Homo sapiens: one gene and its partner. The protein of the gene in region 2 interacts with the protein of the main gene of each other region in a pairwise test. Each region holds a gene or a part of one and is shown on either strand. Other genes may lie near its edges.

Region 1 (4,034 bases), on a different chromosome or scaffold from region 2:
TAAATAAATAAAAAGATGGATATATTTGATTATATGTAAAATTTACACATTTCTGTATAACTAAAGGAGAAAAAAAAAGACACTTGAAAGGTGTTAGGATTATTATCATAAATATTCGAGTAACTCCTCACTTCCAAAAATCAATTAGAAAATGACAGAGTCCACTGGAAAACTAAACAAATATAGTCAGGCAATTCACAGAGAAAGAGAACAAAAGCCAATACATGCATACAAACTGTTTCCCCCATAGTTCCTAGGAAAATGCAAATTAAATATCATTTATTAAACATTTGCTTGAAATCAATTTAAAAATCTGATATCTGGTTAAGATGTGTCCAACTCTCACATGCTCCTTATAATAACTTTGGTAGGAATGTAAATTGCTGCAACTGCTTTAGAACATTTTCTGCAATTTCTTGTAAAACTGAGGAAGCATACACCTTGGGACTCAGCTCTTTTCAGTTCTGGGTGTCAGATGGAGAAAAATATCTCCAATAAGAGCACAAGTTATATACGAAAACTTTCAGCATTCACTGCCTTTGGCAGTGAAAGATGACAAATAACCTAATTGTAAAGGATGTGAAATCGTTACTCATACAAGGGACTCCCACATAACAGTTAAAATGAATAAACTACATGAATTACGTGAATCAACATGAATAAATCTCAAAGACAATCTTAAGTGAAAAAAGTTGTAAAGGTTATATAGTATCATCATTAAAGGTAAAATTTAAAAAGATAAGATAGTACATAAGATTTACAGATGAAACATGAATATATACTAAAATATACATAAGAGTAACATATATCACATTTGTGGATACTTCTGAGGGGAAAAAACATTATTTTCCCCAAAAAGATTTACAGAAAATAAGGTTTGGTGACATGTACATAAGTGCTTCACTACTGTCCATACTTTCTATTTGAAATTTTTCATAAATAATTTTCAAAGCAAATTAAAAAAAAAAGTTGGATTCTCAAGAAAATATGCAACCAATGCAACTCATTAGGAAAAAATCTGCTGTTGAGAAAAAATGTGAACCACTGAAATCTGAGTGGTAGGGAGGGACTGTGAAGTCTAGGATTCAGCAATTTTACAAGTGTTTTTAAGCTTTGCAAAATTAAAAAAAAAACAAAAACTGGAGAGAAATCTTAAACACATTTTGATATGGTTTCTGCAGAGAAAAACAATAATCAGCAAAATCATATAAAAAGAAGACTCTGGCCTCAGGTAACAAAAAATGGCGAATAAATGTCTGTGTTTTAGGTCAAAATACTGTATTTACAAAGTTAAAAAATAAAATACACTTTAAAGTGTTAAAATATGTTACTGAACATTTTAACTGAAAAAAGTTTTAAAGCTGGTAAAAACAGAGTATATTTATATTCATTTACTGTGTTTTAGTCAGTTTTTAAAATGAACTAATACAGGTCCCAATCAAATCAGATAAAATGGCTTCTATCACAGTAATAATTAGAAAAGTTTCTTCTAGCCAGGCATTGTGGCTCCTGCCTGTAATCCCAGCACTTTGGGAGGCCAATGTGGGTTGATCACTTGATGCCAGGAGTTCTAGACTAGACTGGCTAACATAGTGAAATCTCGTGTCTACTAAAAATACAAAAATATTAGTCAGGTGTGGTAGTGCAGCTATATGGGAGGTTGAGGCATGAGAATCGCTTGAACCCAGGAGGCGGAAGTTGCGGTGAGCCGAGATCGTGTCACTGGACTCCAGCCCGGGCGACAAAGCGAGACTCTCATCTCAAAAAATAAAAAAATAAAAAAAATTTTTTTTTTCTTCAAACAGATAATTGGATTAAGATAAATTAAGGAGGAGAAAAAGGAAATCAGAGGTAAAGTTACAAGGCAACGAACTATGTGGCAATGTATATTAGCAAATAAGGGACACAATCTGGCTTTGACCTTTCTTATTTTTTATATATATTTTTTGAGACGGAGTCTCGCTCTGTCGCCCAGGCTAGAGTGCAGTGGCGAGATCTTGGCTCACTGCAAGCTCCACCTACCGGGTTAACGCCATTCTCCTGCCTCAGCCTCCAGAGTAGCTGGGACTACAGGTGCCCGCCACCACGCCTGGCTAAATTTTGCTTTTTTTTTTTTTTTTTGTATTTTTAGTAGAGATGGCGTTTCACCATGTTAGCCAGGATGGTCTCGATCTCCTGACCTCGTGATCCGCCTGCCTCAGCCTCCCAAAGTGCTGGGATTACAGGCATGAGCCACCGTGCCTGGCCTGACCTTTCTTAATACAAGGGAAACTAGGACAACTATCCCTCATCACTGTACAGAAAATAATGCTTAGTATTTTGTTAATGCCAGAGATTCTTTTTATTTGGAGGTAATCATCACCAGTTTTTAGCCACAGATCTATAATGGAACTTTTTTTGCCATAAAGCTATTTCCTAATATTCAAAACTTGGGCTACCATGGTCATATTTGATAGGAAAAGCATCTTGGATTTAGGAAACTAATTACTTTAGAAACCTTATCTGTCCATAGTAATAATACATTTTTACCCTTTAGGGTAATTTCATTTACTCTATTAATTTTAATTTTAGGTAAAAAATTCTTTTCCTTAGTTATTGGGGAGTCTCTGTTCCATTAGTTTCCTTTATTCATGGCTAAATTACTACAAAATTCAACAGAGTTCATCATGATTAAAGGAAACTAATGGAATAGACTCTGTAACTTGTGCCAGTGAAGTTGAATACCTATTTCTGAAATTCCTGGCCTCAAGTGATCTTCTCACCTCAGCCTTCTGAGTAGGTGGGTCCTGTAAGTTGTTTACAGGAAGTTCAGTTTTTCTTAGTAACAGGCAGCACATTGAGCTAGCACCAAAGATCTCTACTTACTGGATGCAGAAAATGGGGTCACCAGACTTGGCAAATAAAAAACGCAGGATGCCCTGTTAGATTTGAATTTCAGACAACGAATTACTTCTTTACAGGATCAGCTCATTTTAAAATTAAAATATCCTATCTGATAGAAGACATTGCCAACTGTGATAAAAACTAAATTTTACACAGATTAAAATTCAGCGGCAAACTAATCCCACTCACTTGAGTAAAACTGCACACACCTGAGTAAAACTGCACACACCTGAGTCAAGGTAGTTTTAAAGTCTTCCATAGGTTAGCTTTCTGATCTACGATTAGGCAGTTTGTTCACATACTGTCAAAGAGTCCAAGTCCAGCTAGCTCAAGGAACACCAAATTTCAGACACTGATCCTAAGTGGTCACTGTTTGCATTCTAAAAATCACACCCTCTGGTTGTTCCTCCTCTGTTATATTCCTCAATGTTCTCATTTCCAGCTCTTTCTGACTTCCTCCTATAAGCTAAAGTTCTGCATTTGGGCCTGTTTCCTAGCAACTGTTTTTGCTCATTTTGGTCTGTGTTCTGGCAATGTGGCCTACAGTTTATATTTTGTTTTCTTCAAATGACAGTCCAGCAAGTTCATATTGTTCCTTTCACCTACAGTACAGTGCTATGTTCTTCCATAACGATGATTTATCTGGCCCCTTCCTTAATATAGTTGGAAATGCATTACTGTTTACTCTCCCTGAATCAGCACTGGCATCAGCTGAGACCTCAGTAGAAATACAGAATCTCAGTATCAGCTCCAGACCCAATGAGTCAGGATCTGCATTTCAAAAAGATACCCAAGTGATTTGTAAGCACATTACAGTTTGCTATGTACTGCTTCAGATAATTCAATTAAAAAATTTAAATTTAAAATGTTTTGATATCTTCTATATTTTATAGAAGATAGCAAAAAAGAGTAAGAAAAACACAGATATGTATTTGCCTTACAGGAAGTCTAACTCTAGGGAAGATTATTGAGGGAGAGGAGATTTAAATTCGATACACTAAGGACAGAGAAAAACATCTGCTTCAATAGAAAACTGCACTGTTGAGAGCACAGCCTTTCAGGTTTTCACATTCTGATTACATGGGAAGTCTGATTCTTTCAGCATCTTGGAGCTATTTTACAACTGTCAACTGTAGATAACCAACAGCAAT
Region 2 (2,994 bases):
ACCTGTACCTTTGTAGGGTCACTGGGAGTGAGGGACCCTCTAAAATACCATCTCCTGCATGAAACATTTCTTGTTTCCCTGGTTAAAAAGAGTATCTCCTGCAATCGCACTTAGCACTTATTGCCCTACTCTAGCTACTAGCTTTATGTTGTTTCCTGCTGTGAATTGTAGGTCTCTGAGAGCAAAGTCTAGGTCTGGTTCCTGTTTGATCAGTACAATGAGCTGCACATATGTTTCCAAGCAATGGCTGTTAAGCTGAATTCCAAGGAAGCAAGACTCGGGGCTGTAGCCTAGAGCTAAGCCCTGAGCCCAGATCTTGCCCTAAACTCCAAGGTGCTACCCCGATCACCAGACCTTTAAGTTTATACACTTCTGCTCCCTATGGCAGAACACAGGCTCTGAGCAATTAGCAGCCTGAAGTTCATTGTTTAAGATTCATTGGAGGAAGTTCCCAGCAATAGATTTCAAAAAGCTGGCAGGAATCCAGAAGAACAGCTTTATTTAGGGAATAAGAAAGCTTTATTTAATAGGGAATACGAATTTACAAGATATTAACATTACGCTTTTTCCACTCCATAATTTGAAGTTCATTTTTTACACCACCCAGCTGTTACATAGGAGCACGGTGGAAATTCAATACCTGTTACAGCTGGAAACAATCTGGAAGAATTCTGACTCTATTAGCAGACAGCTTACTAAAACTTTGTTCTAGTAGTCATATAAAATAATTTATTTGGTCCCAAGTGTCACTACTATATTCAAAGTCATCCAATGTGATAACAAAAATTGTAGAACATTATACGTTTTCATTCCCAGTGATCATTGCCACAGTTTGCTAAAGTTCCTGGCTGAAAATAAATATTTTCTAGATATCATTCTAAGTTGTTTAACTAAATGTAGATGAAATAACATCTCAGGAAAAGTTTGTCAACTCATTAATTTGATTTCCTCATTTGGCATGGAAAAACAATTACCCTTTCAACTTCATCAGTGTCTCTGTAGAGACTTGGATTTTTCGCAGCCTCAGTTCTGCTTGAAGAACGCCAAAGTGTCTCCTCTTGATTTCATGTGGCTCTTCACAAATCCAGTTAATTTCCTGAACCCCTGGGCCAGCCCCTCCCCTGTGAGGGCACAGCAGGGTTGCACATACCAGTTCCGGTCACTGCAAAGCTTCTTCACTTTGAACATTCTGGTGATGTCCTCAGCAGTCAGAGCTCCAGGCATGTCTTGTTTGTTGGCTAATAGAACAACAGGCACATTTTTAATGTGTTCATTCTTCAAAATGTGCTCAAACTGTCTCTGAGACTCTTCCAGTCGCTGTTTGTCTGTACTGTCCACAACATACACCAGCCCATCGGTGTTCTCACAGTAACAGCCCCAAACAGTTCTCATTTTTTCCTGTCCTCCAACATCCCAGACTGTGAGTGAAAGATTCCTTTCCAACTCGATCATTTCCACATTGAAACCTATTGTAGGGATGGTGGTAATATCCTTAGCAAGCTTTAATTTATAAAGGAGAGTAGACTTCCCAGCTGAGTCAAGTCCCAAAAGAAGAACTTGGGCTTGTTTGGTTTGCGGATTTTTAGAACCCAGCGAACCCATTTCAGCCTTTTTCTCTCTCTGTCTCTAAATACCTTTTTTTTTTTTCTTTCTTTCTTTCTTCGAATGGCCAGAGACAATGTGTCCTTTCTGGATCTCACATGAAAATGTTAGGAAGAAAGAAGAAAGCAAATTCTTCATGCTGTATTCTAAGAACAAGAACCTAGATGTGTTTATGTTGTAGCTTATCAACTTGATTATGGGCAAACAGTATTTTATTTGCAGTCCCAGCCAATCCTGAGGGATCTGTGGTATGAGTAACCAGCCAATGCCATGGTGACTCAAAGGGGAAATTCTCTGTGAATGAGTAAGATTAGGAGAGGCCTACCTGGCTGATGCTGCAGTTTTGTTTTCTTTCAGGTGCTAGAAATCTAGAGGAACCTGAAGGTTCAGACACGCAGAGGAGCATGGTTTAGTAGCAGAATAAAAACTTAACTTTTCATTTTAACTAACTTTTAACTTAAATTTAACTAAACTTTTTGTGTAACTTTTTGTGGAACTTCTCTAGGTATTCAACCATTTATCTTATCCCAGTTGTAAATAAGGAACCAGGCTTCTTAAGTTGTGAAGAGAGAGTTATTCTCACACTCTGTCTGCAGTATCTTAAATCCGCCTTGTTCAGATTACTCAGTAGGAAACTTTAAACCACTCAAGGTTATCTGAACCTTACTCCCTAATCACATACAGAATCACTTTCTTTAAAATTCTAGGCAGAGAATTTACACTACTGCAGTCACAAAACCAAATATATGAGGGGGAATTTATAACACGAACAGTTTTACATTAAGCAGTCCAATTAAAGATGGCAAATAAAAACATGCATTTATTTCCTCTCCTTCCCAAGACTCCACAGAATAATGGTAAAGGCATTAAAAGAACATATAGGCCAGGCATGGTGGCTCACGCCTGTAATCCCAACACTTTGGGAGGCCGAGGTGGGTGGATCATGAGGCCAGGAGATCAAGACCAGCCTGGTCAACATGGTAAAACCCCATCTCTACTAAAAATACAAAAAAATTAGCTGGGCGTGGTGGCCCGTGCCTATAATCTCAGCTACTTGGGAGGCTGAGACAGGAGAATCGCTTGAACCAGGGAGTCGGAGGTTGCAGTGAGCCGAGATCGCACCACTGCACTCCAGCCTGGTGACAGTGAGACACTCCGTCTCAAAAAAAAAAAAACAAAAAAAACATATAAATCCATAACAAAACAGCAAGATAATTCATCAAAGGGTCAGAAATTTTAACAAAATTCTGGAAAATGGAAACTAGATGGAAAAATGAGTGATAACTGATATAGCAGGATAAAGCCAAGGCTTGGAGTGCTGATGCAGAGGAGATAGACAAGAGGTGACAGGTATGGCAGACAGAAGGGGTGAAATAAAGGACTAAAAACAGC

What was found.
Region 1: the proteins of ARL14 (region 2) and ARL14EP interact in binary tests that used the Homo sapiens proteins (3 or more experiments, as listed by UniProt).

The regions. Positions count from the first base shown.
Region 1 is NC_000011.10:30,325,890-30,329,923, reverse strand, and holds part of ARL14EP (ARL14 effector protein), read right to left. Parts: intron 2,919-4,034; exon of another isoform or gene 2,866-2,918; intron 1-2,865.
Region 2 is NC_000003.12:160,675,955-160,678,948, reverse strand, and holds ARL14 (ADP-ribosylation factor-like protein 14), read right to left. Parts: upstream 1,790-2,994; 5' UTR 1,603-1,789; coding exon 1,024-1,602; 3' UTR 501-1,023; downstream 1-500. UniProt on the Homo sapiens protein: GTPase that recruits MYO1E to MHC class II-containing vesicles via the effector protein ARL14EP and hence controls the movement of these vesicles along the actin cytoskeleton in dendritic cells.